Homo sapiens: one gene and its partners. The protein of the gene in region 5 interacts with the protein of the main gene of each other region in a biochemical or structural test. Each region holds a gene or a part of one and is shown on either strand. Other genes may lie near its edges. The genes, in order: EVI5, CACYBP, GJC1, OR8G1, DLG4, ACOT6 and CRB2.

What was found.
Region 1: the proteins of DLG4 (region 5) and EVI5 interact in a test that uses a peptide from one of them, tested with the Homo sapiens proteins (one large-scale study listed by IntAct).
Region 2: the proteins of DLG4 (region 5) and CACYBP interact in a test that uses a peptide from one of them, tested with the Homo sapiens proteins (one large-scale study listed by IntAct).
Region 3: the proteins of DLG4 (region 5) and GJC1 interact in a test that uses a peptide from one of them, tested with the Homo sapiens proteins (one large-scale study listed by IntAct).
Region 4: the proteins of DLG4 (region 5) and OR8G1 interact in a test that uses a peptide from one of them, tested with the Homo sapiens proteins (one large-scale study listed by IntAct).
Region 6: the proteins of DLG4 (region 5) and ACOT6 interact in a test that uses a peptide from one of them, tested with the Homo sapiens proteins (one large-scale study listed by IntAct).
Region 7: the proteins of DLG4 (region 5) and CRB2 interact in a test that uses a peptide from one of them, tested with the Homo sapiens proteins (one large-scale study listed by IntAct).

Annotation. Positions count from the first base shown.
Region 1 is NC_000001.11:92,777,982-92,782,536, reverse strand, and holds part of EVI5 (ecotropic viral integration site 5 protein homolog), read left to right. Parts: intron 1-4,555. UniProt on the Homo sapiens protein: Functions as a regulator of cell cycle progression by stabilizing the FBXO5 protein and promoting cyclin-A accumulation during interphase. May play a role in cytokinesis.
Region 2 is NC_000001.11:175,005,832-175,010,386, reverse strand, and holds part of CACYBP (calcyclin-binding protein), read right to left. Parts: intron 3,643-4,555; coding exon 3,546-3,642; intron 3,290-3,545; coding exon 3,190-3,289; intron 1,779-3,189; coding exon 1,681-1,778; intron 465-1,680; coding exon 308-464; 3' UTR 1-307. UniProt on the Homo sapiens protein: May be involved in calcium-dependent ubiquitination and subsequent proteasomal degradation of target proteins. Probably serves as a molecular bridge in ubiquitin E3 complexes. Participates in the ubiquitin-mediated degradation of beta-catenin (CTNNB1).
Region 3 is NC_000017.11:44,819,904-44,824,458, reverse strand, and holds part of GJC1 (gap junction gamma-1 protein), read left to right. Parts: intron 1-4,555. UniProt on the Homo sapiens protein: One gap junction consists of a cluster of closely packed pairs of transmembrane channels, the connexons, through which materials of low MW diffuse from one cell to a neighboring cell.
Region 4 is NC_000011.10:124,246,949-124,251,503, forward strand, and holds part of OR8G1 (olfactory receptor 8G1), read left to right. Parts: intron 1-852; 5' UTR 853-932; intron 933-2,711; 5' UTR 2,712-2,727; coding exon 2,728-3,663; 3' UTR 3,664-4,555. UniProt on the Homo sapiens protein: Odorant receptor.
Region 5 is NC_000017.11:7,189,103-7,193,627, forward strand, and holds part of DLG4 (disks large homolog 4), read right to left. Parts: intron 4,483-4,525; coding exon 4,381-4,482; intron 4,016-4,380; coding exon 3,843-4,015; intron 2,901-3,842; coding exon 2,791-2,900; intron 2,257-2,790; coding exon 2,165-2,256; intron 1,713-2,164; coding exon 1,606-1,712; 3' UTR 1-1,605. UniProt on the Homo sapiens protein: Postsynaptic scaffolding protein that plays a critical role in synaptogenesis and synaptic plasticity by providing a platform for the postsynaptic clustering of crucial synaptic proteins.
Region 6 is NC_000014.9:73,617,711-73,621,201, forward strand, and holds the end of ACOT6 (acyl-coenzyme A thioesterase 6), read left to right. Parts: intron 1-1,523; coding exon 1,524-2,129; 3' UTR 2,130-2,178; downstream 2,179-3,491. UniProt on the Homo sapiens protein: Catalyzes the hydrolysis of acyl-CoAs into free fatty acids and coenzyme A (CoASH), regulating their respective intracellular levels.
Region 7 is NC_000009.12:123,361,890-123,366,444, reverse strand, and holds part of CRB2 (protein crumbs homolog 2 precursor), read right to left. Parts: intron 3,581-4,555; coding exon 3,257-3,580; intron 529-3,256; coding exon 333-528; intron 219-332; coding exon 79-218; intron 1-78. UniProt on the Homo sapiens protein: Apical polarity protein that plays a central role during the epithelial-to-mesenchymal transition (EMT) at gastrulation, when newly specified mesodermal cells move inside the embryo.

The DNA of each region.
Region 1 (4,555 bases), on a different chromosome or scaffold from region 5:
ATTTTCCTGGTACTGAGGTTGAGTATCTTTTGTTGACCATTTATATTTCCTCTTGTGAAGTGCCTGTTAAGTCTTTTTGCCCAGTTTTCGTTGATATGCTTATTTTTCTCTCATTTATAATGCTTTATTCTGGATATGAGTCCTTTCTAGGATATATATGTATTGCATTTTTATTTTTTTCAGTCTGTATTTTGCCTTTTCAGTCTTTTAATGGTGTTTTTTTTCATGCCTGGAGATTCTTAATTTGTGTGTGTGTGTGTTTTTTGTTTGTTTGTTTTGTAAGATGGAGTCTCACTCTGTTGCCAGGCTAGAGTGCAGTGGCGCGATCTCGGCTCACTGCACCCTCGCCTCCCGGGTTCAAGCAATTCTCCTGCCTCAGCCTACTGAGTAGCTGGGACTATAGGTGTGTGCCACCATGCCCGGCTAATTTTTGTATTTTTAGTAGAGACAGGGCTTCACCATGTTGGCCAGGGTGGTCTTGATTTCTTGACCTCATGATCCATCCACCTCGGCCTCCTAAAGTGCTGGGATTACAGGTGTGAGCCACCGTGCCTGGCCTTTTTTTTTTTTTTTTTTTTTTTTGAGACAGAATCTCACTCTGTTGCCCAGGTTGGAGTGCAGTGGCACGATCACGGCTCACTGCAATCTTGATCTCCCAAGACTCAGGTATTCCTCCTGCCTTAACCCCCAAGTAGCTGGAACTACAGATGAGCACCACCATGCCCAGCTAATTTTTGTATCTTTAGTGGAAATGGGGTTTTGCCATGTTGCATAGGCTGGTCTCGAACTCCTGGGCTCAAGTCATACACCTACACCAGCCTCAGCCTCCCAAAGTGTTGTGATTACAGGCATGAACCACTGCACCCAGCCTGAGATTCTTAATTTTAATGAAGTATACTTTATCAATCTTGTCCTTTATGGTTACTGCTTTTTGTGTCCTATTTAAGAAATCAATGCCTAACCTGAGAATATGAACATATTTTTCTGTGTTGTCTTATAGCAATTTTATTTTACTTTTTGCAAAAAAAATTTTTTTTTTTTTCAGACAGGGTCTGAAGTGCAGTGGTGCAGTCTCAGAACACTGCAACCTCCGCCTCCTGTGCTCAAGCATTCCTCCCACCTCAGCCTCCTGAGTAGCTGTGACTACGACTACAGGCATATGCCACCATGCCTGGCTAATTTTTGTATGTTTTGTAGAGTCAGGGTTTCAACATATTACCCAGGCTGGTCTCAAACTCTTGGGCTCAAGCAATCTGCCCTCTTCGGCTTCCCAAAGTGCTGGGATTACAGGTGTGAGCCACTGTACCCATCCCCTACTTTTTGCATTTAAGGTATATAATTTAGAGTAAATTCTTGATGAATCGCAGGGGTCAAGATTCACTTTTTAGGCCGGGCGTGGTGGCTCATGCCTGAAATCCCAGCACTTTGGGAGGCCGAGGCGAGCGGATCATGAGGTCAGGAGTTTGAGACCAGCCTAGCCAACATGGCGAAACCCTGTCTCTACTAAAAATACAAAAATTAGCTGGGCGTGGTGGCGGGTGCCTGTAATCCCAGCTACTCAGGAGGCTGAGGCAGGAGAATCGCTTGAACCTAGGAGGCAGAGGTTGCAGTGAGCCGAGATTGTGCCATTGCACTCTAGCCTGGGCGACAGAGTGAGACTCGGTCTCAAAAAAAAAAAAAAAAATTTACTTTTTTTTTTCTTTGAGACAAGGTCTCACTGTATCACCCAGGCTGGAGTGCAGTAACATGATCTCCACCTGCTTTGACCTCCCAAAGTGCTGGGATTTAGGCATGACCCACTGCACCGGGCCAAGATTCACTTTTTTCTATATAGACGTCTGTTTGATCCAGCACCATTTATTGCAAATACCATCCTTGTCCATCTGCACTGTGTGGCACTTTTTTTCATAAATTAGATAACAGTATGGTCAGCTAATTTATGAAATTAGTGTGGGTCTGTTTCTGGATACTTTGTTCTATTTGTATATTTGTCATCCTTGCACTAATATCACTGTATTAATGTAACTTTATAATAAGCTTTGATATGTGGTAATATAAGCTCTCCAACTTTGAGAGGTGGGCAAAGAAAGTGGGCTGTGGGCAGGGGCTGCTTTTCATCAAACACACTTCTGTTTAACCCCTTGGCTTTCAGCCTTGAGCCTTACTTTACTTTTCTTGAGTCTGGAGTCTCACAGGTGTATTAGTCTGTTCTCATGCTGCTATGAAGAATACCCAAGACGGGGTAATTTATAAAGAAAAGAGGTGTAATTGACTTACAGTGCCATATGGCTGGGGAGGCATCAGGAAACTTACAACCATGGTGGAAAGCACCTCTTCACAGGGGAACAGGAGAGCGAATGAATGCCCAGCAAAGGGTGAAGCCCCCTGTAAAACCATCAGATCTCGTGAGAACTCACTCACTATCACAATAACAGGGTGGGGGAAATTGCCCCTTTGATTCATTTATCTCCACCTGGTCCTGCCCTTGACATGTGGGGATTATTAACAATTTAAGGTGAGATTTGGGTGGGGACACAGAGCCAAATCGTATCACCAGGTCAGAGTTTCTAGAAAATAAATTTATGAGATAGGAATGGTGGCAGAGGAGGGAACCTAGACTAGAGTCCAACTGTACCTTACATAAACTTTAAACCATTTACTTTCTCTTTAGCCCCATGCCTCTCCACTGACCCTATACCTGGGAACTCCTAGGCTCCTAGATTCTGAGCCTTTCTGTGATTCTGTGAGTTAGCCAAATCAGCTTGCTTCTTTTTATTTTTTAAATTAAAAAAATTTTTATATCACTTTATCTGGCAGCCTTCTTCTGAGCCAGAATAGGCTCAGAGAGACTCCTCAGCTTGTTTCTTGATTGTATTCCCTTTTGCAGGCCAGTAGGTTCAGCCTCCTCTACTCAGTCACTTATTTCTCCATCTCTTCTTGTTTCATGGGTGCCATATCTGTTCTTATCTCTCTGAGAATGTTAAAAATCGTTTTCTTAAGCCTTTCTTTTTTTTTTTTTGAGACGGAGTCTCAGCCACCCAGGCTAGAGTGCAGTGGCGTGATCTCGGCTCACTGCAGCCACCATCTTCCGGGTACAAGCGATTCCCCGTCTCGGCCCTCCAAGTAGCTGGTATTACAGGCATCTGCCATCATGCCCAGCTAATTTTTGTATTTTTAGTAGAGCCGGGTTTTCACCATGTTGGCCAGGCTGGTCTTGAACTCCTTACCTCAGGTGATCCGTCCACCTTGGCCTCCCAAAGTGCTAGGACTACAGCTGTGAGGCACTGCACCTGGCCTAGACCTTCTTTTCCTTGCATAGTTTCTTCCAAGTTACTTTTTTTCCTATTTGGTATAGTCTTATTAGTAGAGGCCCTCCTCGGAAGACTGGTAATCCTTGGTTGTCTGTTCATGATTAACAGTGGGCTACTGAAAGCTGATGGGAAGTCCTGAACTTGTAAGTAGGACTTAAGGACATGTTGTTTTACCCTATATTCTAGAGTCTAAAGCAGTGATTCTCAGCTTCGGCTGCACATTATAATCACATGGAGAATTAAAAAAAAAAATCCCTGCTGCTAATACGTCAGAATCTCTGAGACTAGGTCCCAGGTAGGGATAGTTAAAAAAATTAGGTGTGGCTACATACAGTAAAATGCACAGAATTTAAGTGTATAGTTTGATTTTTACCATGTAACCGATATAAGATGTAGAGCATGGCAAAAAATTCTAGAAAATTCCTTCATATCCCTTTCTTCTGTTGTCTCACTCCCAGCCTAGAGGTGACCACTATTCTGATTTCTATCTCCGAAGATTAGCACCAGTATTTTTTAAAGCTGCCAAGATAATTCCAGTGTGTAGCCAAGATTGAAATAATTGATCTGGGTGGATTGTTTGAGGCTGTCTCCACTGTATTTATCTTTCCTTTTGTCCCAGTCATATTTTCCAGAGAGTATCTTCCAGTTTTCTGCTTGGAGAGTTGAGGTCTGGTTGTCAGTATCTGGGAACTCAGGAAAAGAGGGTTGGGTAAGGAGCCAAAGAACATTTAGTATATTGGGCTCACACAATCTGTCTCTGTTAGGATGCCTATGTCTTCCACCTTGTATGGTTTACCCTCTTGAGAAGAGAAATCTGTCACCTGCCACATTGAGGGTGGGGCCACTCAGCAGCTTGGAAGAAATCTGGGATTCTAACTGTTCAGCATTCACTTGCTCCTTTCTTTTAGTCCCCCTTCCACTCTTTGTTCTGGCAGTTCCTGAGCCTTTTGAGGAATCTATGGCATAAACCGGTTTGTTCTTAGTTGTCAGCATTGCTGGCTTAGAATTTGGCCATCTTTGGCGGGGTGCAGTGGCTCACCCCTGTAATCCCAGCCCTTTGGGAGGCTGAGGCAGGCAGATCATGAGGTCAAGAGATCGAGACCATCCTGGCCAACATGGTGAAACCCCGTCTCTACTAAAAATACAAAAATTAGCTGTGCGTGGTGGCGTGCGCCTGTAGTCCCAGCTACTCAGGAGGCTGAGGCAGGAGGATTGCTTGAACCCAGGAGGTGGAGGTAGCAGTG
Region 2 (4,555 bases), on a different chromosome or scaffold from region 5:
AATACACACAATGTAGCGTTTTTATTGGGCAAGACTTGCTTTTTATATTTCACGTGAGAATGCAATATAACCCTTCCTTGAACAAAATGACCAGGGTACTAATAAAACCATCTTTGCAGGAGTGTTTAATAAGCATATTTTATTTAAATAAATCCTCCAGTAGGAAATGGAGAATTCATTGCCTTTACTTAGAAGGCTATGTAAATAGCTATCTGTCAAATTTATATATGCAGCTCACCAATATTCCCTTACTGGAAACATCAGTATTTCCACATCACATCACAGTTCCCAAAACGACTTTAAAGTCTCAAAATTCCGTGTCTCCTTTGGCTTGCTTCTCTCTTGATTCCACCCAGGCTTTATTAATGGTTCGCTTCATATCATCGTCTCCATCTTCATAAATTTTCTTTAGAACATTCATCAATCCCTCACTAGGATCTGTTTCAGTGTCATAGGAGGGCTTCCTTTAAAAAGAAAACATATACAACAATGGGGAAACGAAAGCACCGGAAGATACTATCATTCAGGTTGTTAACACTGGCAGGAAGTAGAGGGATAAGAAGGAAGACAGAGTACCCAAAGATATTTACAATCAAAACGGCACGCACAAATTCATCTTAATGAAAACAACACACACGTATCAAGCATGCACACACTTGGTGCACGAAAGAGGTCATCAAAATAGTTAGGGGCTATTTTTAGGCACAGGGATTTCCCATGATTTTTTTTTTTTTTTTTTTTTTGAGACAGTCCTGCTCTGTTGCCCAGGCTGGAGTGCAGTGGCGCATCTCGGTTCACTGCAACCTCCGCCTCCCAGGTTCAAACAATTCTGTCTGCCTCAGCCTCCCGAGTAGCTGGGATTACAGGCACATGCCACCATGCCCGGCTAATTTTTGTATTTTTAGTAGAGACAGAGTTTCACCATGTTGGCCAGGCTGGTCTCAAACTCCTGACCTCAGGTGATCCGCCCGCCTCAGCCTCCCAAAGTGCTAGGATTACAGGCGTGAGCCACCCCACCTGGCCTCCTGTGATTTTTGACAGGTAAAATAAGAATTTGATTTTCTAACTTGTTTTCATTTTTTAAAAGCATGTTTCCTCATAATTTGAAAAAAAACACTTGAGGGAAAATCATAAACATTACACATGGATGTACCCTGAAGCTCATGTATTTTTTAATTAGAAAAACTCTCCTCTTAAGCCTGAGATACACAGATCTGGGCCTGGGTCTTGAATTAATTTAGTCAGTACCTTTAGAAGATGAACTGACCTAGAACGCAAGTATCATTGAATACACATTTTTAAAAGGTCATTATTAAGAAGGATAAAAATATTTTATCTTTTTCACTATAAACCAGTGACAATGAAAACTACGCATCAGAAGCATCTGAGAAATTTAAAACATACAGGGGTACCTAAGCCCCTCTCAAACTACCGAAACAGAGTATCTGGGAATGGGCACAGTTATTTGTATAGAAGCACAACTGCGCCTAGGGTTAAGAACCACACTAAAGAGCCAACCCTTAACTACAAAGACCTTAAAAAGCAACTTGCTGGACGTGCCCTCTTCAGGTAGTTTGACAGTTGAAAGCAGAAATACATTATCCATAAAGACAAACTATTAAAAATCCATGATCTCAAACAATACACTAAAATTCTTTAAAAAAATGGAAGTAGACTCACTCTTTTTCTTTGCACTCCTTTTCAACCTGGGTCAGGTAATCCCACCTTGTGTTTTCCACTTTCTTTCTACACAATATAAGAACTGTATCAGTCTTGACCTGGAAGAAAAGCAGGAAAACAAATACAGCTTAGAAGACATGGAGATAAGCATGAATATTTATAAAACAATTATCTATTCAATTGATCAAGTCCCTAGTATGTATAGACTTATTTTGGGTGCCAGTAATACTTGTATGAATAGGCCAAAATCTGAACATTCATGGTGTGAAAAGACCATAAATAAGTAAAACTTGAATACCCTGATATCCTGGAAAGTGCTATCAAGACAAAGCGGGTGTTAATGGGGGGTGGGGGCAGGAACTTCATTAGGAAGGCCTCTCTGAGGCAAATCTGAGCCGAAGCCTAAGGTCAGGAGAAGGCAGTTGGCAGAGCATGCAGAATGGCTCCAAGATGGGATCATCTTGGTGTGTTTGAGGAGCAGGAGGAGTGGCTGGATTTTAGTGACTGAAAAAGACAGTAATATAATAAGAGGGGTCGGGGATAGGCAAGAAACCAAGTCGTATAAGGCAGTATGGGGCAAGGTGAGGCATTTGAAAGTGAGAAAGAAGGGCAATGTACAGGTCTTTTAAACAATGATCAATACTAGGGATCTTTTGGTACTCTACCTATGGGACTAGCGGATGCAGAAGGGTGCAGTAAGACAGCGAATCCAACTATATTTGAGTATCACCTGTAAGCTGTTAAGTAATTATGTATTATAAAAACAGATGGCAGAATGTCATGTCTATATACCTAACGCATTAAACTTCATTTATTCACATTAGGCAGAAAACAGGGACTATCTGATTTAGTAAAAATTACAAAGAGTAGTTTTTAAAAGACAGTTTCCTTATTTTTATAGCTGCTTCTAACTCCAAGGAGGCTAAGTGCTTAAGACCTCCTTTTATGTATACGAGTATTATGCACAATGCTAACACTAGCATTAATTTAAGCACTTTACATAATGGTATTGCACTTCAGTGTATCATTTCAACTTTGTGAAATAAATTATTACTATCGCATAAATGCAGAAACTGAGGCACAGAGTGATTAAGCTGCCAAAGGTCACAAACAATAAGCTGTAAACCTGGCATAAAACTCAAGTCTCACTCTTAACTACCTTCAAACGTTTACTTCCTCCCTGATTTTAATGGAATATTCTTACAATAGCCTATTCTACAAAAGGAGTTGGCAAATGTTCTCTGTCGAGGGCCGCATAGTAAATATTTTAGGTTTCATTTAGGGCCATATGGTCTGCTGTAGCCACTTAACTCTGCCATTGTAGCACAAAAGCATCCACAAACAACACATGAACAAATAAGCCTGGCTATGTCCCAATAAAACATTCACAAAACAGGCGGTGGTCCCTGTTACAGAGGACAAATTCATTCCAGTTCATCTCAGTTCTAAATCAGCCAGGTTCAATTTGGTAAGGTTTCACAATATTACAATCAAAAAAAGCACACTCACTTTTTTTGAACTGCCTTCCACAGAGATGGGTTTCAAGAGATTGTTCACAATCATGGAGTAACTCTTCCCATTTAGATTCTTTACCAAAAGATCAAATGACCTGCAACACAATGGTGAATACATCATCTTTCTAGTTCTATGAAAGGTACCCTTACTCCATAGTTCTTGTGGGAAAAAAGCTGCTGGCTTTATTTCAGGGTGTGCATTTGGCCAGTTAACGCTCACCTCTTCAAAGTAGTTGTAAAGGATAATTAATTCTAAATTTAAGAATTTTAAAAACTGCAAAGAAGAGAGTCTCAAGATAAGGCAATGTTGACTGTTAATTCACTGTCTTTCCCATTATAATGAGAACTCACCTCTCTGTGAAATGCACCTGCACATTCTCAGTGGGAACTTGATGAACTCCAGTTAAGGTAATGTAGATTTTCACAAACTTATCTGACTGATCCCATCCTGGCAACGACAACAAAAGATGGGACGTAAGTAAGCCTCTGAAACTATCTTTAGAACAGCAAATGCACATGGCTCATAAGTCAGGAAAGTAAAATTATGAAAATCCAGTCATATAAACATGAAAAAATTTGAAATATAAGAAATTTTCTAGGTTGAGAAATGGAGCCTCAAAGCAGTTAAGTACTCTACCCAAAGCTAGGCATCTAACAAGTGGTAGAATTCAGATTCAAATCCAGGTTTCTGAATACAAAACCTATGCTCTTTTTATCCCTCAGAATAAAAATATGATCACTAAATACATTCTTTAAGATTAGTTCATTTACAGCTTTTATGGAAACAATTTTGTCCGACATCTAAATATTGGTAGTTCTCCACTAAGCTGGATGGCTAAGTATCAATACTAATTCCATAACCATTTCTACTTCTGTAAGTAGTCAAACAAATGGAATCCTAGCTCTCTTAATTCCTTTCCAGGGCAAAGTAGAATGTAAAAGACTCCAATTCTTCATCCAAATCTGACAAACCTACTGGTATCTGTTAAATGCCATTTCAGTATGTATTATCAAACTACCAGCACGTCTCTGACCTAGAAGAACTCTGTCAACATAAAAGACATATATATAAATACTTCACAAAATACCATCACATTTGTAGAAAATAAAAAACTTCACAAAAAAGCATCTTCTGTTTATCAAGAATATATACATACATATCCCTGACTATTGCTCACTTAGTCCTATAGAATAGAAACATGCCCCATCCTCCATGACGTTTTTCACATTGCATGCCTATATCAAACATCTCATGTACCCCATAAATATATACACCTACTATGTACCCTCGAAAATTAAAAAGAAACAGTGTTGATGAAAAAATGCCCTAGTGGGGTCCAGAGAACTTCATTTATTAATAG
Region 3 (4,555 bases), about 38 Mb from region 5:
GATGTGGTGGCATACACCTGTGGTTTCAGCTACTCAGGAGGATGAGGCAGGAGGATTTTTTGAGCCCAGAAGTTGAAGGCTACAGTGAGTTGTGATCACACCATGCACTCCACCCTGGTCAACAGAGTGGGACAGTCTCTATTTGAAAAAAGAGGCCGGGTGCGGTGGCTCACACCTGTAATCCCAGCACTTTGGTAGGCCGAGGCAGGCAGGTCACAAGGTCAGGAGTTCGAGACCATCCTGGCCAACATGGTGAAACCCTATCTCTACTAAAATACAAAAAATTAGCCGGGCATGGTGGCGCGCGCCTGTAATCCCAACTACTCTGGAGGCTGAGGCAGGGGAATCGCTTGAACCCGGGAGGTGGAGGTTGCAGTGAGCTGAGATTGTGCCGCTGCACTCCAGCCTGGCAACAGAGCAAGACTCCATCTCAAAAAACGAAAAGAGGGCCAGGCACAGTGACTCACGCCTTGTAATCCCATCACTTTGGGAGGCCGAGGTGGGCAGGTCATGAGATCAGGAGATCGAGACCATCCTGGCTAACACCGTGAAACCCCGTCTCTACTAAAAATACAAAAAATTAGCCAGGTGTGGTGGCACACGCCAGTAGTCCCAGCTACTTAGGAGGCTGCGGCAGGAGAATCGCTTGAACCTGGGAGGCAGAGGTTGCAGTGAGCTAAGATTGTGCCACTGCACTCCAGGCTAGGCGACAGAACAAGACTCCATCTCAAAAAAAAAAAAAGGAAAGGAAAGAAAGGCCAGGCATGGTGCCTCACACCAGTAATCACAGCTCTTCTGGAGGTCATGGCAGGAGGATTGCTTGAGTCCAGGAGTTCAAGACCAACCTGGGCAATATGATGAGACCCTGTCTCTACAAAAATAAGAAATTTTAAAAAAAAGGAGGAAAGAGGCTAGGTACGGTGGCTCACGCCTGTAATCTCAGCACTTTGGGAGGCCGAGGCGGGGGGATCATGAGGTCAAGAGATCAAGACCATCCTGGCCAACATGGTGAAACCCCGTCTCTACTAAAAATACAAAAATTAGCTGGGCCTGGTGGCACACACCTGTAGTCCCAGCTACTTGCGAGACTGAGACAGGAGAATCACTTGAACCCGGGAGGCGGAGTTTGCAGTGAGCTGAGATCACACCACTGCACTGAAGCCTGGTGACAGAGCAACACTCCGTCTTAAAAAAAAAAAAAAAAAAAAAACAGGAAAGAAATGCATAGGGTTTCAGAGTAAGTTTTGATGTTTTTCCTCTATATAAATCGGATAAACTTCACACACCCCTATTCTTATCCTCTAATCTCTAAACTATATTCAACTCCCAATAGTTATAGAGATTATTTTCATTCACATGTTTGTAGTATTTATCAGTTTTGGCTTAATTTATTATTACTTAACTAATGAGTTATAACATTCCTTTTGGGAACGTTCAAATTAGAGCTGGACTCTATTTTAGGAATTCCCCTTGAGTCATTCTTGGACTTGGAATTCCTAATTGCCCATCCAGAGTAGATGTTTATTTGGATTCAAAATTTTCCTTCCTGAAATTATCCATTCTGTGGCTTCGGTTACCATATATATTTTGAATACTGCCACATTTTTATCTGTAGCCAGACCTCTTTTTTTATCCTGGCTGCCTGTTCAACATCTCCACAGAGATACTCAGAGGAGGTAATTTGAATTGTGTTGTCCAAAGTGAGCTCTTCATCTTGGCCCCACACCTAGACTTTCTTCAGTGTACTCTATTTTATTAAGTGGCTCTATCACACAATTTACTGAGGCTGGACTCTTTTTTTTTTTTTTTTTTTTTGAGATGGAGTTTCGCTCTTGTTGCTCAGGCGGGAGTGCAATGGCATGATCTTGGTTCACTGCAACCTCTGCCTCCCGGTTTCAGGCGATTCTCCTGCCTCAGCCTCCCGAGTAGCTGAGATTACAGGCGCCTGCCACCACGCCCAGCTAATTTTTTATATTTTTAGTAGAGATAGGGTTTCACCATGTTGGCCAGGTTGGTCTCGAACTCCTGACCTCAGGTGATCCACCCGCCTCGGCCTCCCAAAGTGCTGGGATTATAGGCATGAGCCAACACACCCTAATTTTAGAATATTTTAGATTGTTTTTATTCCGTCAAAAAGAAACCTGATACCCGTTAGCAGTTACTCCCTCCTTATTCCCCCCATAATGGTTGTACAATATTCCATTATGGAGGTTATACCATAAATTATATATGTTTCTTTTTTTTTTTTTTTTTTTTTTTTTTGAGACGGAGTCTCGATCTGTCTCCCAGGCTGGAGTGCAGTGGCACGATCTTGGCTCACTGCAAGCTCCGCCTCCCAGGTTCACACCATTCTCCTGCCTCAGCCTCCCAAGTAGCTGGGACTACAGGCGCCCGCCACCATGCCCGGCTAATTTTTTGTATTTTTAGCAGAGACAGGATTTCACAGTGTTAGCCAGGATGGTCTTGATCTCCTGACCTTGTGATCCACCTGCCTCGGCCTCCCAAAGTGCTAGGATTACAGGTGTTAGCCACCGCACCCAACCTAATTATATGTGTTTCTTATAATAAATGCCCTGTATTTGTTTAGGGTAAATTACTAAATGTGGAATTATTGATCAAAGGATATAAGCACTTTAAAGTTCTTGATAACTGTTGCCAAGATGCCTTCCAGAAAAGTTGTACCAGATGACACCATTGGTGTATGATGGTATGGGTGTTGGTGTTTTTTTGTTGTTTTTTTTTTTTTTTTTTTTTTTTTTTTGAGACGGAGTTTCCCTCTTGTTGCCCAGGCTGGAGTGCAATGGCGCGATCTTGGCTCACTGCAGCCTCCACCTCCCAAGTTCAAGTGATTCTCCTGCATCAGCCTCCCAAGTAGCTGAGATTACAGGCGTGTGCCACCACGCCCGCTAATTTTGTATTTTTAGTAGAGACAGGATTTCGCCAATATTGGTCAGGCTGGTCTCGAACTCCTGACCTCAGGTGATCCGCCTGCCTCAGCCTCCCAAAGTGCTGGGATTACAGGCATGAGCCACCGCACCCAGCCGATGGTATGGGTTGGGTTTTTTTAAAGAAATTTTGTATCATAAACGTAGTCATATTGGAAAATCATACATTTATTTTTGTCTTAGACATGTTCGTTTTTCTAGACTGAGCATTGTTCAGAACAGTTGGTTTGACCTAATCTTAGGCTGTTTTGGACAAATGTTCCAATATTGTCCTGTTTGCATGAAGACAGTTCCACTTAGGATATGTTGTGAATGAATATATTATCCCTATCCCAGGTTCCTCATACTTCTCCAGCTGGTTCCTGAAGGTTCTTACATTCAAATAGAATGGCTTTTTGCCAGCGAAAATTGGCACTTCAACCCACAATGGTGCTTTTTGTTTCCTCATTGGTTGATACAGCCAAGATCTCAAACTACTCACTCTCCATGAGATTTTATAATTTGATTCGCCACAAATTATATTTTAGGTTTTTCAAATATTCATAGCCAAGAGCTCTTTTGAAAACAAGTTGTTTTCATGTTTGTAGCACATAGATTACTATGTGCTACTTAGCTGCTGTAATGCTTTTGCTTAGAAATTGTCACGAGCTAGTTATTAAACATCTATTATCACTCATGTGGAATTAACTTCCACTTAAAACGTTCCAGTTAAACAACACTTCATTGTAAACCCTTTAATTGATTCCTGGTCTCTGCACATAAAGCAGTCGCGTTCAGGGGTATGAGTCACTAGCACGATTCTTAGTGGATTGCTCAGCTCATGAGCTGGGATGCCTAGATTGTTAATACCTACTTTGGAATTACAGTGAGTCAATATTGAAATTTTTAAATTTAGTCCAACCGCAAATTTTCTGAAATGATCGTTTGGGAAGTGCCTTTTTAAAATTTTGACATCTTGTTATATTGTTTAATTTTACTGCTATTACTTTACTTTTCTCCTATCCCTAGACTTTTGAGTTCCACATAATTTGTCAGTTTGGTGAATTTTACTCTGAGATAGTTTTCATCAAATGTTAAATGGAAGAGATTTTAGAAATCATCTAACTTGATATTCTTCATTTATTTCAGAAATTAGGATATGGAAAGAACTTATTCCTGAAGTGCATGGATTATATTCTGGGATTAGAATCTCTTGCCTTCTAGTCCATTGCTTGCTTAGTTTCACAAAATTCAAGGTTAAGAATCACTTTTCGCCCAGGAGCCGTGGCTCACGCCTGTAATCCCAGCACTTTGGGAGGCTGAGGCAGACGGATAACCTGAGGTCAGGAGTTTGAGACCAGCCTGGCCAACAAAGTGAAACCCTGTTTCTACTAAAAATGTAAAAAAATTAGCCACTGTGGAAAACAAGATAATGTTCCTCAACCAATTAAAAATTACCATATGATAGAGCAATTCCACTTCTGGATATTAAAACAAAAGAACTGAATGATTAGCCAGGTGTGGTGGCACACGCCTGTAATCCTGGCTACTTGGGAGGCTGAGGCAGGAGAATCACTTGAACCTGGGAGGCAGAGGTTGCATTGAGCCGAGATCATGCCACTGCACTACAG
Region 4 (4,555 bases), on a different chromosome or scaffold from region 5:
AAAATTATAAAATATTTTAAACTTAATAATATCATAAATTTTGTATACCAAACCTTGCGAGATCCAGCTAAAGTGGGGTTCAGATGGAAATTTATAACTTATATGTACACATTAGAAAAGAATAAAAGTTGAATTGTTGATTCAAGCTTCCACTTCAAGAGGTTAGGGAAAAAAATAGGAAATCATACTAAAGAAATGTGTAAAGAATATAATAAAGTTTTTAGAAACAACTAAAGTAGAAATAAATATATCACTCATAAAATTAACATACCCAAAAGTTAATTTACTTTATTTGAGTAATACAATTGGAAAATTTCTAGAATGGTTGATCGAGACAAAAATGGAACCATAAATTACTGATTTTAGGAATCAGAAAAAAGAAATCGCTGCATAGTCTACAATTATGTTTAGATGTTAAAGAAACAATTACCAAAAAAGAAGAAGAATACAATATATTTGATCATTTGCAAAGTGGGCAAGCATTTTCAAATTTAAATTTAGGAAAGTTGAGAAGAAAGATAAGATCTGAATAGTAATATCTATTAAATAAATTCAATCCATTACTAAAAATTCTCACAGAGAGAAAACCGTAAGTCTAGATTGCTATACTGGTGAATACTTCCAAACATTTAAGGTATTTTGGGGCAATCTATTCCAAAAAATATGTTTTTGAGATTTGTGTTATTGCATGTATTTGTGATATGTTCCTTTTAAAATATAGAGTAATATTTTATGTGTGTGTGCATATAAGACAGAGAGAGGAAGAGAGAGAGGGAGAGAGAATTGTAGTATAGGTGTATACTACATCTCATTTATGTATTCATCTGTTGATAATGTTTTGGTTTTTTCCAGTTTGGGGCTCTTATGAATAAGGCTGTCATGAACATTTTTGTATAAATCTTCATGTAGACAAACGTTTACATTTTTCTTGGGTAAGTACTGAGGAGCAGAATTATTATATTGCACAGTGTCTGTTTAAATTTATACTAAATTGCCAACATCTTTTCCAAAGTGGTTGGACAATTTTACACCTCCCCCAAATTTTATAAGTCCAGTTACTTCACACCAACATTTGGTATTGTTGGAGTTGTTTCATTTAACCCATTCCAATACAGGTGTGCAGAGCTGTATCACTATGGTTTTAACTTTCATTTCTTTGATGACTGACATTGAGCATATTTTCATATACTTAAGGACTATTCATACATATTTTTGTAAGGAATTTGTTCGGATATTTTCCTGTTTTTAAAATTTTCTTGCCTTCATATTAATTGTAAATATTATTTCTATATTTTGAATAAAAGCCCTTTTTCAGATATATGTATTTCCATAGAATTGCCTTCTCATTTTCTTAATACTATCTTTTGAAGAACAGCTTTTAATTTTGATGACATACAAATTAAGTATTTGTATGGTTTTTTGTTTGTTTGCTTTGGGTTTTGTTTATGTGTGTCTGTGTGTGTGTGTGTATCCTTTCTAAGAAAGCTTAAATTTTAAAATCTCAAAGAATTTCTCTAGCATTTTCTTCCAGATATTTTATAGTTTAGCCTTTCTGTTTATATCTGTATTTTAGTTTTTTTATAGAAGTAAGATATACATTTTTAGGTTTTCCATATATAATATTCTTTGTAATTTAACTCTAAGCCATTTGGAATTTTACTTTGGCACATGCAATGAGTAATTTGCCTGATCATAGTTTAACAGAATAAATAACTATATTTTAAATTCCATATATTCTAAATGTATGCCTGTTTTTTGTACTTCTTCCTAATTCACAAAAGTTAAAAGAAGAGAAAAAAAATGGAGGTATTTTTATCTGTTTCTGTAATTTGAATGAGTAAAATGGCTTATTTTCCAATTGACAGGATATGAATAGGTAACAAATACAATGATGATCTTGCTTACTTTCTGATTAATAAGTCTGCCAATTTTATTAATAGGTAGGTAATATTTTTATTTATCTTTCACAGATTTGGAGTCAAGACACAAACGGGTTATTTAACTTATCCACGGGTATCATTAGTAAATGATAGAGTCAGAAAGCAAACATAGGCACTTTGAGTTTAAGGCCTGTCCATTTAACCACTACTAACACAGCTTCCCTCAAATAATGGCAGAAGTGCTTGGTCCAGAGACCATAAACCAGATAACTGTGGGCCAGTCCAGCTCGTGTTAAATTTATACAATTATTGTTATAGAGATTGTTTCATAGTAATAATATTTTAAAATATGAAAATTTTATGTATAAATCGAGATTTCTTGATAATTACATTAAAAATGGAAAAATCTGACAGTAATATCTCTGTTCACCCCTCCCAGAAATTAGTTTCAGGTAATTAAAGTTTACCATCCTTAGGCAAGGTTTGTTCTCTCCAAGTTGTCATGAGTTCAACTCATTTATATTGGCTTATATTAATATTTAAGTTAGTGAGTCTAAACTTAGAAATATTGGCTTAAAATCACTGAAATATTTAAAAGAAGAAAGGGATACTTAGAAAGTGTTCAATGATAAAAATGGCTAAAATATTTTACATGAAACACATTTATTATATTTGAAAATAAGATTAAATAAATATTATTTGAGGTAAACTTTACTTACTCAAAGGGGATACCTAAAGCATGAATATCTGGGAACCTTTTCTCAATGAAGAATAATAAAGTCCCTCCCACAACCATGGGGTTTTTTTGTTTTGTTTTTTCTCTTCCTGCAGAAACTGACTGGAGGAGATGTCAGGAGAAAATAATTCCTCAGTGACTGAGTTCATTCTGGCTGGGCTCTCAGAACAGCCAGAGCTCCAGCTGCCCCTCTTCCTCCTGTTCTTAGGAATCTATGTGGTCACAGTGGTGGGCAACCTGGGCATGACCACACTGATTTGGCTCAGTTCTCACCTGCACACCCCTATGTACTATTTCCTCAGCAGTCTGTCCTTCATTGACTTCTGCCATTCCACTGTCATTACCCCTAAGATGCTGGTGAACTTTGTGACAGAGAAGAACATCATCTCCTACCCTGAATGCATGACTCAGCTCTACTTCTTCCTCGTTTTTGCTATTGCAGAGTGTCACATGTTGGCTGCAATGGCGTATGACCGTTACATGGCCATCTGTAGCCCCTTGCTGTACAGTGTCATCATATCCAATAAGGCTTGCTTTTCTCTGATTTTAGGGGTGTATATAATAGGCCTGGTTTGTGCATCAGTTCATACAGGCTGTATGTTTAGGGTTCAATTCTGCAAATTTGATTTGATTAACCATTATTTCTGTGATCTTCTTCCCCTCCTAAAGCTCTCTTGCTCTAGTATCTATGTCAACAAACTACTTATTCTATGTGTTGGTGCATTTAACATCCTTGTCCCCAGCCTGACCATCCTTTGCTCTTACATCTTTATTATTGCCAGCATCCTCCACATTCGCTCCACTGAGGGCAGGTCCAAAGCCTTCAGCACTTGTAGCTCCCACATGTTGGCGGTTGTAATCTTTTTTGGATCTGCAGCATTCATGTACTTGCAGCCATCTTCAATCAGCTCCATGGACCAGGGGAAAGTATCCTCTGTGTTTTATACTATTATTGTGCCCATGTTGAACCCTCTGATTTATAGCCTGAGGAATAAAGATGTCCATGTTTCCCTGAAGAAAATGCTACAGAGAAGAACATTATTGTAAACAGTAATAATAAGAAGATGATATATTAATCCTAAGTAGTGGACTGTTACATTGTATGAATGGATGTCTTTCACTTTAATGCATCTGTCAATAATTTTTACCATTTGGTGAGATTATATTACCATTATTTTTTCATTTCATGACCCTTTGATGTCATTTCCCATGTGGGGTTTTAACTCATATGTATCAATGAGACACAAATTAATATAAATACTAAAATCGACATGAGTACATAGACTCATTAATGCCAGCCCCATGTTCTTACCTCTTTTCTTTTACACAATTGATAAAATTCAGCTCAGTTCTCAACCATAATGAAAATACCATCTTCCAAAAGTGATACCAATCTCCCTTATTCTGTCTTTTCAATAACAACATAAATTATTGCAATATGATAGCTGTAATTTTAGCCTGCAGCAATCTCTTTTCTGCCTTATTCATCTATTTACCTCATTTGTCTGCTGTATTTCTTCTTTAGCAACATAATCAAAATTTCAGAATATAAGTTACATATCCGTGTATGTGTTATAATTGTGCAATCCAATATATCATCTGCTTTGCATTTTCCTATTCTAGTTTGTACTTGCCTTCAACCTACACTGGACTTCAGTCTTCATGAAGATTCCCCCGTACATGTGGTTTATTGCCACGTCTCCAGCGTCTATCATAGTTCTTGCCACCTTAGGTCCTTGAAAGCTTTTTTATTATTTCCTCATTTAAGCTAAGTATAGGAAAGCCATATGTATGTCATACTTACTTTATCTATTTATCTCTCGAAGAGCTACATATGTTTTTAAATCTAATCTAATTTAATTTATATTTCAAGTTGATTAAAATTTACTTTAGAAGGTTCTTCAAGAATCTATAATATAACTGGTAACATTCTGACCTA
Region 5 (4,525 bases):
CTCTGTCTCAAAAAAAAAAAAAAAAGGGTGGGGGGGGCGCATAAAGAAACCTAGCGTATATTCACACAGCAGTTCTTATCAGCAGAACTCTGTAAAGATCATTTCCAGGCCAGGCGCGGTGGCTCACGCCTGTAATCCCAGCACTTTGGGAGGCTGAGGCGGGTGGATAACAAGGTCAGGAGTTCAAGACCAGCCTGACCAACATGGTGAAACCCCATCTCTACTAAAAATACAAAATTAGCCAGGCATGGTGGCAGTAATCTGTAATCCCAGCTACTCAGGGGGCTGAGGCAGGAGAATCACTTGAACCAGGGTGGCAGAGATCACAGTGAGCCGAGATCGAGCCACTGCACTCCAGCCTGTGCGACAGAGCAAGACTCTGTCTCAAAAAAAAAAACAAAAAAACAAAAAAAATCATTTCCAGATCCTAGCTCTGTCCACAACTCCATGAACATGAATGAACGAAGTTTCCTCTCTATTTTCCTTTAAGGACTGTTGTGCTTCCCAACAGGACTGAGACAGCCCGGCAGGGATCAGAGCTGGACTAAGTCTGCAGGGCCCCAGACAAGTTCCAGCCTCCCCTTTCTGGCCTGTCATGACTTTGGACAGAGCTCCAGACCTTCCCAGGCTCAGTCTTCACCAACTCGGGTTCCTTGATTTGCCAGTTACCTCCCTGGCCCATTTTCCAGGCCACTAACCTCTCTGGCTTGGAGTGAAGAAGGATCTGACTCTGCTGCGCCCATCTCCCTCCACACCCAGGTCCCAAATAACCAGGCCACACACCAAGTTTCAAGTATCTGTCTCTTCCTTTCACTCTCTCAAAAGAAAAAAATAAATAAATTGCAGAAGGCGGCAGCATTTCCAGTCTTCCCTGGCTCCCGGACACCCGACCCCCGACCCCTGCCCCCCACCCTCCCTCCCGCATTTCCCACTCCCTAGACCCATCCCTCCCTTTTCCCCAAAAAAATTCCCAGGAAAAAAAAAAAAAAAAGCCACATTTAGACCTTCCACTCATGCAAACCGGCAAAGAAAAATGGTGGGGGCATGTGGAAGGCAGGGGCCCGCTGCGGAGTCCCCTGCTTCTCCCCCCAAAAAACCACCTTTGAGAAGAAAAAAAGTGGAAAAAATAAATGAGAAATCAAGGAACATGGGGAATTACGATGAGGGCAGGGGTGACCCCAGACCCTGCCTTAGGAGAGAGCGGAGGCCTGTGGCCCTGCATCCCTGCAGCGGGTGCTCCTCGAGGGGGCCCTGACTTCTGGAATGTGTGTGGGAGAGGATGGGGGAGGGCAGGTGGCCCCCGGTGGGTCTGTGTGTGCATTGGGGGCAGGTGGGGGCGGGGATCCTAAGGAGCAAGGGCTCGGAACAAGGAGCCCAGCTCCCCCCCAGACCCCAGGTTCCTGGCGTTCAGGAGCCCAGTTCTGGGGTGCGGGGATACATGCAGAGGAGTGTCCCCCCTCCAACAGGCTGGATCCAGTTAGAAAGGAAATAAATAAGAAGGGGTGGGAGGGAGGCCGGGGGGAGCCAAGGGCTTGGGCAATTCAGTCCAGACCAAGGGCCCAGGTGATGGAGGCAGGGCGAGTCCAGGCCAAGCCAGGGCAGGAATCAGAGTCTCTCTCGGGCTGGAACCCAGATGTAGGGGCCTGAGAGGTCCTCGATGACACGCTTCACCTTGTGGTAGATCTCCTCAAAGCTGTCACCCTCCACGATGGCTGGGAGTGGGGTGGAGCAGGGAGTGAGGCCAAGGAAGGGCCAGAGGACACCTGGCCAAGGGGGTTGCACCAGCCCAGAGGAAGGGGCACCTCTTTCCAACTCTCCAAGCCATAAGTCCTGGGGCTGCACCCGCCCACAGGGGCACCTCTTTTTTTTTTTTTTTTTTTTTTTTGAGATTGAGTTTTGCTCTTAGCGCCAGGCTGGAGTGCAGTGGTGCGATCTCGGCTCACTGCAACCTCTGCCTCCCAGGTTCAAGCGATTCTCCTGCCTCGGCCTACCGAGTAGCTGGGATTACAGGTGCCCGCCAGTGCTGGGATTACAGGCGTGAGCCACCATGCCGCGCCCACAGGGGCACCTCTTTCTAAGCCATCCACTGGGGGTGGCGGGGGAGCTCTTTCTAATCCGAGCAAGGGCACCCTACATGCTGGCAACAGCCTTGCTGTGGCCTCACCTGAGAAGCACTCTGTGAACTCCTGCTCCAGCTTGGTGGCTCTGTCGAAGGCTTTGCGGGCTTGCTCCTCTGTGATCCGCTTGTTAATCTCTCTGTGAAGAGGGAGGGAGAGCAGGCCTGAGACTGGACCCACCTGACCCTGCCTTTTATCTCCTCTATCCAGGAATGTTAAGTATTCTTCTATTTGGAGCACATAGCAAAAAAAAAAATACAATTCCCAATATCCTCTGGGGCCACAGATGAGAACCACCCCCCACCCCCCTGCCACCCGCAACCGCCCCAGCCAGGTGTGGCTACTCCAGGGACATCTACGGAGCTTCATCCTTCCAGCCTTCAGCCCCAGAGATGGGATTCGGACTCCAATTCCCAACAGCCCTAGAGGCCCTGACTCGCCCCAGCTGGTATGCCCCAGGGGCTGCTGGGAAATGTAGTCCTGTCTAGCCAAGGCAGGAGAGGAGGGGAAAGACCCGATTCCCCCACATCCTCTGGGTTCCAGGGATCCCCCTCAGGGGCTGCTGAAACCGCTGTCCAGGGTTCTGAAGGGAGAGTTGAACGCAGACGCCTTGTGAGGCCCAGGGCCACAGGTGTTGGGGGAGCAAAGGGGAGGCCCCCAGGACCATACTCACAGCACATTCTCCAGGGAGCGGGGGCGGATGAAGATGGCGATGGGGTGCAGGTGGGCCGCCTGCAGCCGCCGCACGGCATTGGCCGAGACATCGAGGATGCAGTGCTTCCCCTGGGGGCAGGCAGGGTGGGCGGAGGGGGGCCAGCGGGTGGCGAGAAAGGACAGAGAGCAGTGCCGGAGGGACACGGACGGGGAGAGGTGGGGAATGGGAAGTTGGCCGAAGGGGAGTGACATGGATGTCAAGAAACACGGGGGCAGAGAGTCAGGCAGGAAGCGGGTATGGACAGAGTAAAAGACAGAGGGAAAGGAAAGGGAAGATGGAGAGCACGGGAGAGGGCAGGGACAGGACAGAATGGAGGAAGGGAGGAGCACCAGGCAGGCAGGGACCCAAGAGATGGTGGCAGAGCCGGGGCAGCAGCGAGTGGGGCGGGGTGTGCAAGGCAGAGGTGACACAGGCGGGAAGGAAAGCCAAGAAAAAGGAGAAAGGAAGTAGGATAGAGGGAGGAGGGAGGGGAGGACGGACAGAGGACAGACAGATGGAAGGAACAAGGAGACAGATGGGAGGGAGTGAGGCAGATGGAGAAAGGAACCGTGGAGGGAGGGAGGGAGGGCAGGGTGAGGAGCAGCGGGGAAAGGAAAGGAGTTAGCAGAGGAGTGGGAGAGGGGAGCCGGGCCCCAGAAAAGGGTGAGGCAGGGGAGAGGGCCAGCGGGGAGTCAGGAAAAAGGGAGGGACCCAGTGGGGAAGGCCAAGCCACCAAAGACAAGGCCATGGGAAGAGAGGAGAAATGGGGCAAGGAGAAGGGAGTGGGGAGAGAAAGAGGCCAGATGGTGGTGGGGAATTTGGGGTCAGGAAGTGAGGGAGGTGGGAGAGAGAGCAGGGGCAGAGAGCAGGCAGTCAGACAGAGTTGCCCAAGAGGAGAAGGAGGTGGAGGAGCGGAGTGGAGACCCAGCAGGGAAAGAGACAGAGAGAGAGAGAGTTAGAGAAAGCTGGAGGGAGGCAGTGGGGTGGGGAGAGGGGAGAAGGAAGAGGACCGGGTGCCCGCCAGGTCCTACCTGCTCTGCCACCTCTCGCACGGACTGGACGCTGGTCCCATAGAGGTGGCTGTTGTACTGGCCGGCCTCAATGAACTTGTGCGCCTGAATGTCCTTCTCCATTTTCTCCCGGGACGACACAAAGTGGTAATCCCGGCCATCTATCTCATACTCCCGCTTGGGCCGTGTCGTATCTGCCAGGAAGTCACCCCACCCCCCAAAGATCTAACCACCATCCCTCTAGCTTAAATCCTGCCTACTTCAATCAAATCCCCATAGTGCCCAGCTGGTCCTTTGGTGAAAGGGAGCTGCCAGGGAGACCAAGACTGCAGAGGGCCAGAACCGCTTCCCCTAGCACCCTCCAGGGCCTCCAAGTCTCTGGCCTGGGCATGGGTACTATGGAATGAGAGGGTGGCTGAGAAGCACCCCTTCTCGGAGAAACCCTGTATCTCCCTACACACCGATCCCCCAGGAGGCTCTGCCTATGGCCCCAGGGATGGGCCTCCCCTGCCCCACCCCCACTTCCACCTTCTCCTCCATCCAAGGCCCCAGCACTCACGGGGAACACAGGATCCAAACTTGTCGGGGAACTCGGAGAGAAGATCATCGTTGGCGCGGTCCTTGGTGGGCCCAAGGATGATGATGGGGCGAGCATAGTGCACTGCAGAGAGAGCCTGGCTTAGGCCGAGCGCAGGGTTGGGGGA
Region 6 (3,491 bases), on a different chromosome or scaffold from region 5:
TTTTTTGAGACAACTGGAGACATTTGAATGAGAATGGTGTATTTGATTATATGAAGTAATCATTAATTTTGTTGGGTATGATAATGGTATTATGGTTTTGTAAAGAAAGTCCTTATCTGATAACAGAAATAATTAATTAATTAAAACATTTTGGCCAGGTGCGGTGGCTCACGTCTGTAATCCCAGTACTTTGGGAGGCCAAGGCGGGCAGATCACCTGAGGTCAGGAGTTTGAGACCAGCCTGGCCAACATGGTGAAACCCCATCTACTAAAGATACAAAAATTAGCTGGGCATGGTGGTGCACACCTGTAATCCCAGCTACTCGGGAGGCTGAGGCAGGAGAATTGCTCGAACTCAGGAGGCAGAGGTTGCAGTGAGTCGAGATTACACCATTGCACTCTAGACTGGGCAACAAGAATGAAACCCCATCTCAAAAAAAAACCCAACAACAACAACGACAACAAATTTTGGTATAATTAAAAATGGAATTATATATACTCTTTGTTATCATCCAGGTTTAAAGAGATCCAGACATTCTAATGTTAAGATATAAGATGTTCTGCAGGGTTCTCTCCCCCACAACCCCTAGTGCTCTTGGGATCCGGCACCCCAGAATTCTCTGCCAAACAGCTCTGATCCTGCTTCCAGGCCCTAAGCCTCTTTTCTGGGTTCGTCGGTGTATATATACCTAGGCCTTAAACATGCAAGCTGGGGTGTCCACACATATGTGTGAGAGGCCCCTTAAGGTCCACGAAGGAGCCAGTGATGGAAGAGAAGGAGTGTGGTGCAGGGCCCACGGGCTGACCTCTCCCCTATGTCACTTTCCAGTACAGAACTCCAGTGGATTCCAAGATTTTAAATTTGAGCCTGAACTTATGAATTGTTATGGTGGTATATTTATCAAGGCAGGAGAAAATAATATACTGTATTTAACAGTTTGTTCATTTGATTTATAATTTTGAAATATTTAGGTATAGGGTGTCTGGGCCTCTGTGTATACTCCTGACCCAGTCCTCATAAATATTAGGGGATGACCCATTACTAGGAAATCAGTTGATTTGCTTATTAGAAGACATATTTGAACTTTGCAGATTGTTGGATACGGAAGGAAAGCAAATGATAGTTAAGAAAGCTACTGGCGGGGCACGGTGGCTCATGCCTATAATCCCAGCACTTTGGGAGGCCAAGGCAGGCGGATCACTTGAGGTCAGAAGTTTGAGACCAGCTGGCCAACATGGTGAAACCCTGTCTCTACTAAAAATACAAAAATTAGCCGGGCGTGGTGGTGGGCGCCTGTAATCCCAGCTACTCGGGAGGCTGAGGCACGAGAATTGCTTGAACCCGGGAGGTGGAGGTTACAGTGAGCCAAGATTGCACCACTGCACTCCAGCCTGGGTGACAGAGCGAGACTCCATCTCAAAAAAGAAAAAAAAGAGAAAGCTACTTGGAGAATGTAAAATCACTGTCTGTGTCCTCCATTTATGAATTCTAAGCTTGTTTTCCTTCTCTTTTTCCTCAACAGGTGAAAGGTCCTAGTATTGCGCTTCTTGGATTTTCCAAAGGAGGTGACCTGTGTCTCTCAATGGCTTCTTTCTTGAAGGGCATCACAGCCACTGTACTTATCAATGCCTGTGTAGCCAACACAGTAGCTCCTCTACATTACAAGGATATGATTATTCCTAAACTTGTCGATGATCTAGGAAAAGTAAAAATCACTAAGTCAGGATTTCTCACTTTTATGGACACTTGGAGCAATCCACTGGAGGAACACAATCACCAAAGTCTTGTTCCATTGGAAAAGGCGCAGGTGCCCTTCTTGTTTATTGTTGGCATGGATGATCAAAGCTGGAAGAGTGAATTCTATGCTCAGATAGCCTCTGAAAGGCTACAAGCTCATGGGAAAGAAAGACCCCAGATAATCTGTTACCCAGAAACTGGTCACTGTATTGACCCACCTTATTTTCCTCCTTCTAGAGCTTCTGTGCACGCTGTTTTGGGTGAGGCAATATTCTATGGAGGTGAGCCAAAGGCTCACTCAAAGGCACAGGTAGATGCCTGGCAGCAAATTCAAACTTTCTTCCATAAACATCTCAATGGTAAAAAATCTGTCAAGCACAGCAAAATATAACATTGTAGCCACAGACCAGATACCATTAATAAAAATCCTATTCATACAACTTGTGTTGGGTTTTCTTTCTTTCTTTTCTCTTTTTTTTTTTTTTTCCTGTATCACTCTGTCACATAGGCTGGAGTGCAGTGGCATAATCTTGGCTCACTGTAACCTCTGCCTCCCAGGTCCAAGCTGTTCTCCGACCTCAGACTCCCGAGTATCTGGGATTACAGGTGCACACCACGGCACCCAGCTAATTTTTGTATTTTTAGTAGAGACAAGGTTTCGCCATGTTGGCCAGGCTGGTCTTGAACTCCTGCCTCAGGTGATATGCCTACCTCACTCAGCCTCCCAAAGTGCTGGGAATACAGGTGTGAGCAACCACACCCAGCCTGTGTTGGGTTTCCCAGAGCCCGTAGCAACCTTTTTAGTGACAAAGCAACCAGCTCAGCTTTTTTGTCAGGTCCTCCCTGATTCTCAACCTTTGCAACCTGCCTTCCGTCACTGCTAGGTCCACGTAGGCTTAACCTTGATCTTATATGTAGGACCGGTCTTCACCTTAAGCAAGAGAAATGTAAGAAGTGCTTTCCCAACTCAGTTGCTGGCCCAGCTTTGGCCTCGTGTTCCCTTTCTGAGGACTGACCTTTGGTATTGCTCTGGAGTCTCATATCCCCTTTGGCCCTAACTGACCACGTCTGAGTCTTGGGAAACTGCCCACTCGATTGCCTTAAGGAATGGACTCTGCCTCATTCTTTTTTTTTTTGAGACGGAGTCTCGCTTTTGTTGCCCAGGCTGAAGTGCAATGGTACGAGCTCAGCTCACTGCAACCTCCGCCTCCCAGGTTCAAGCGATTCTCCTGCCCCAGCCTTCCGAGTATCTGGGACTACAGGCTCGTGCCACCATGCCCAGCTAATTTGTGTATTTTTAGTAGAGACAGGGTTTCACCATGTTGGCCAGGCTAGTCTCAAACTCCTGATGTCAGGTGATCCACCCACCTCAGCCTCCCAAAGTGCTGGGATTACAGGCCTGAGCCACCACGCCTGGCTCTACCTCATTCTTGCCCATACACATTGCTGAACATTTACTCAAGACTTCTCCCTGGGCCGGGCACGGTGGCTCACGCCTGTAGTCCCAGCACTTGGGAGGCTAAGGCGTGTGGATCACCTGAGGTCAGGAGTTTGAGACCAGCCTGGCCAACATGATGAAATGATGAAACCTAGTGTCTACTAAAAATACAAAAAATTAGCCAGGCAAGGTGGCGGGCACCTGTAATCCCAGCTACTTGGGAGGCTGAGGCAGGAGAATTGCTTGAACTCAGGAGGTGGAGGTTGCAGTGAGCCGAGATCGCGCCACTGCCCTCCAGCCTGGGCAACAAGAGCA
Region 7 (4,555 bases), on a different chromosome or scaffold from region 5:
ACCTGCCCCACCGCCCCAGGCCGCACAGGCGCACACCTACCCCTCCCCCCGCCAGGCCGCGCACCTGCACGCACACACCTGGCCAACAGAGGCAGCGGAAGCTCCCGAGGCCCTCGAGGCAGGACGCGTTGTGCTCGCAGGGCGCCGATGCGCACTCCAGCACCTCCCGCTCGCAGTGCGTGCCCTCGTAGCCGGTGCCCGCGCAGTCGCACCGGAACCTGGGGAGGGCGCACCGGCGGAGCTGAGCGCGCGCCTGCCCCTTCTGCCCCGCGCCTGGCCTCCCCGCCCTCGGGCACCCGGCGCCCCTGCCGCCTGCCCCGCCGCTCGCTCACCCGTTGACCAGGTCGTGGCACGTGCCCCCATGTGCGCACGGCTGGCTCTGGCACTCGTCGAGGTCCAGCTGGCAACGGGTGCCCCCGTAGCCTGGCGCGCACACACAGCGGAAGGAGCCCACGCCGTCCAGGCACGAGCCCCCGTGCAGGCAGGGCGCTGAGGCGCACTCGTCCACCTCCATCTCGCAGGTCACGCCTGGACAGGGCAGGGGACACACAGGGTGCAGGATGGACACCCAGAGCAGGGCGGAAGAGGTCGCGCCAGGCCTGCTCCAGAGTTAGAGACTCGTGGATTCATTCATTCAGAGCCGGATGGTGGTGGTGGTGGTTGGGGGGTGGGGGACGGGTCATGCCAGCAACCGCAGGGAGAGAAACGAGACAGACAGCCCTGCCTTCATGGGGCTCACAGCAGTCTAGGCCAGGACATGGTGGGGGGTGATTCAGCCAGTAATTACCTAAATGAGCTAGGTGATGTTGCCAAGTTCAACAAGGAAAGGGGTTGGGTCTTGGGAAAGCAATAGCCGGGGTCTGCTCTGTTCAGGGAAGGCTTCCTAGAAGAAGAGGCTTTTGAAGGATTCAGATAGGGGACTGTGGGCAGCAGTTGGATTCCAAAGAGACTGCAGCAAGAGGCAAGTTCCACTAGGGGCAGGGCCATGATGCCCTAGGCGGGGTTATTGGAGGGTTGGAAGCAAGGGAGAGGGTGGCGGAGGTGAGTCGGGTGGGAGGTGTCAGTGCCTTGGGGACCAGGTAACCTCTGGGTCCATCCTGAAAGTTTCAGACAGGTAAGTGACTTGGTCCCACCTACATTTTAGTTAGTTGTTTTGGGTTTGTTTTTGTTTTTTATTTTTTTGAGACAGAGTCTCACTCTGTCGCCCAGGCTGGAGTGCAGTGCTGCAATCTTAGCCCACTGCAATCTCTGCCCACTGGGTTCAAGTGATTCTTGTGCCTCAGATTGCAGAGTAGCTGGGATTACAGGTGCATGCCACCTCACCCGGCTAATTTTTGTATTTTTTTGTAGAAAAGGCGTTTCACCATGTTGGCCAGGTTGGTCTCCAACTCCTGGCCTCAAGTGATCCACCCACCTCAGCCTCCCGAAGTGCTGGGATTACAGGCGTGAGCCACCACACCTGGCCCTACCTACTTTTTAGAAGGTCCACTCTGGTGGCTTTCAGATCCCAGAGAGGCAGGAGATGCTTGAGTAGGGTAATCACTCCTCCCAGTGTCCCTGCACTGTCCTGGTTTTAGAACTGAAAGTACCAAGTCCCCAGAACCCTCGCAGTCCTGGGCGAATCACGACAGCTGAGTGGCTCTCCCAGGGTGATGGTGAAGAGGAAGGGAGATGGGGAGTCCCAGGGTTTCAGATACGCTGCCTGAGATCATCCTGGACTCACGTGTCACTGTAGACTCCAGCAGGCCCTGCCCCCTAAGTGGGTTTGGTCAAGCGGGGGCCAGAGGCCCAGCTGACTCCAGCTGGAACCCTCCCCCTTCTCAGTTCATTGAGCACAAAACATGGCCCCACCTTCCCATGACCCTTCCCTCCTCCCTCCCCATCCCCACTCCCACCCTCTGTGCCAGGGGGAGCCAGGCCTTGTCTGGAAATCCCAAACTCCCCCACCCGGCTTGGAATGGAAAGAGGAGAGAATGAGTCACGGCAGATGCTGCCCCCACTCACATCCACAGCTTACCCAGGAAGAGTCACCCGAAGTGTGTGAGTGCTACACATCCGGATGCACAACCCACTGCCCGCACAACCCACTGCCCGCACAACCCACTGCCCACACAACCCACTGCCCGAACAACCCACTGCCCACACATGCACTCAGACTGCAGACACCCCCAGGTACTGGCAGATCTTTACAGATGCAAAACAGAACTTGGAACTAGGAGACACATGGACGAATGTGACCTGCACTGGCATGTACACTAATACACCCAGACGCTGAGACACTGGAACGATGAGAAAGATGCATGGAACCAGCTTCCCAAATCTCTCTTCATCAGCTGCCATCTCTTCGCTGTAGGCCCCCTGCCCTGGAACCCAGCCCCCCAATCTGTACCTCTTGCTCTGAAGTGACTTCAAACTGCCCTCTGCCCTCAGAGTACAGTTGTCTGAATTCAGGATTGAAGTAGGATCCAGAGCATCTACACTGCAGACTCAGACTCTGCCCTGGACTCAGCTTCGCTCCCAGACTGCGCCCCTTCTGTCCCCAGCTGCGCCCTCCTTCCCGACTTCAGGCCTCTCTGGGAAGCCGCTCCAGGATGTTCTCGGCTCAGACCATGGGTGGGCCTGGGACGGGCCACACTCTGGAGAAGGTACCCTTAGTGCCAGTCACTTTTCTGAGCACTTACGTATATATTATCCCACTCCAGACAGCAGCGATCCCTGGGGTATGTCAACACTACAGTTTGAACGAGACCTTGTATGTCTATGCTAGAACTCTGGGGGAGACCCAGAGGCCAGGGGTCCACATTGCACTCCAGACCACATCAGGAGTGTTCAAATGAGCTGATGGTGACTGTCGTGTAGACAGTGTCTACATGACAGCTTGGCACAGGCCTGAAGTGCTAGAAAGACTATCTGGGCATCCTCACTAAAGTCACGCCAGGCAGGTTCACACTGCCAGAGATGAATGAGGGGTATTCCACCCCCGCAGCCAAACTGAACTCTAGGCTGGACTGAAATCACATTTACCGAGTGCCTGAGATGCGCCACACACCACGCCAGCACCCGCACATACATACTCTCACCCAGAGCTGCCAGGCATCAGTTCTGTAGTCAGACCAAGTGGATATACCCTAGAGCTGCCCGGATGCCTGGGGGCGTCCCTACACGAAAGGCAAAGCTGAAGCCATGATGCTTACACTCTGAGCAGCTGATGCGATCTGCATTACAGACCTCCTCCCAGGGCGGCCCAGGCTGTTACCTGCATAGCCAAGGGGGCAATGGCACTCGTAGCGATCGGCCAGGTTGCGGCAGGTGGCCCCATGGTGGCACGGCCGGGATGCACACTCATCGATGTCCAGCTCGCAGCGTGGGCCCTGGAAACCCGGCACGCAGTAGCAGCGGAAGCCGGTGGGATCTGGACCCTGGGGCACACACAGAGCGCCGTGGTGGCATGGCTGGGTGGCACAGCCCCGGGGCTCCATGGGCCCACAGGTATAGCCACCACTCTCGGTAGCCTGGCACTCGGTCCCTGGAGCGCACGGGTCTGAGGCACAGGCACTGGGGGGCTCTGAAGGCACCGTCCCTGTAGAAAGAAGAAACTGGCTGGGCAGGGTGGGCAGAGGTTACAAGGACAATCTCCTCCCCACCCTCTCAGGCCCACCCCAGACCCCAAAAGCAACGTGGGTCTCTGCATGCACAGTATGGACAGAGGGCCAGGGGTCTGCAAGCCAGGTCCCAGTAAGCTGCACACATCTGCACCCAGAACTGGGAACGGTTTTAGGAGAGCCTATATAGCAGAGAAACAGCACCAAGGATGTCTGGCTTCTGGGCAGGATTAGTGAGCAGAGGTTCCCTGAGCCCCGTGAGCTTCCCTCCACTGTCTTGTCCCTGCAGTCCCCCTTTGAGGCAGTATCCGTCATGCCCATTGCACCAGACAGCAAAAGGAGGCCCAGGAAAGAAAGTGAAGGCTTGCTGAGCCTGCCCAGCCCTGTCCACTTCACACAGCAAGTTAGTGTTCGCTGGGACAGGCTTCAAGGTCTATCTGGATTATTTCAGCTCCACCTGGGGAGGGGTCTCCCTCCTGCAGGCCCCATCCATCCAAGGAGGCCCCAGAGGGTGAGGCTCCTCCCACTGCCCCCTCCACCTCTTCTGCCAGGGGTCTGGTAACTCCATCCCTGGGTGAAACTGGAGATGGGCCCGACCTCAACCTCTGGAGGATGGGTGGACAACTTCAAAAGCAGGGATCGTGTGCTCCGCTGGTCTCATTCCTACCCCTTCTCCACATCACTACCCACCCCCTGCCAGCCACTGGCCTAGGAACTTCTAGAGGGTCCCTGGCCCTAATTTCATCCCCCATCAGCAAACACCTGAGTGGCCGGCCTGGCCAAGGTCGCATGGTACAGAGCAGGTATTGAGATGGCTCACGGACACCTGCCCCTGGCCACCATGATGCTTCCAGCACCGGGGCTCTAACAGAGGGTCACCAACCGGCTTGGAAGCCACGCCCAGAGATCCTCATCCCCCTTCCTCTCCTCCTGCCTTCCTGAGAGCCTTGTCA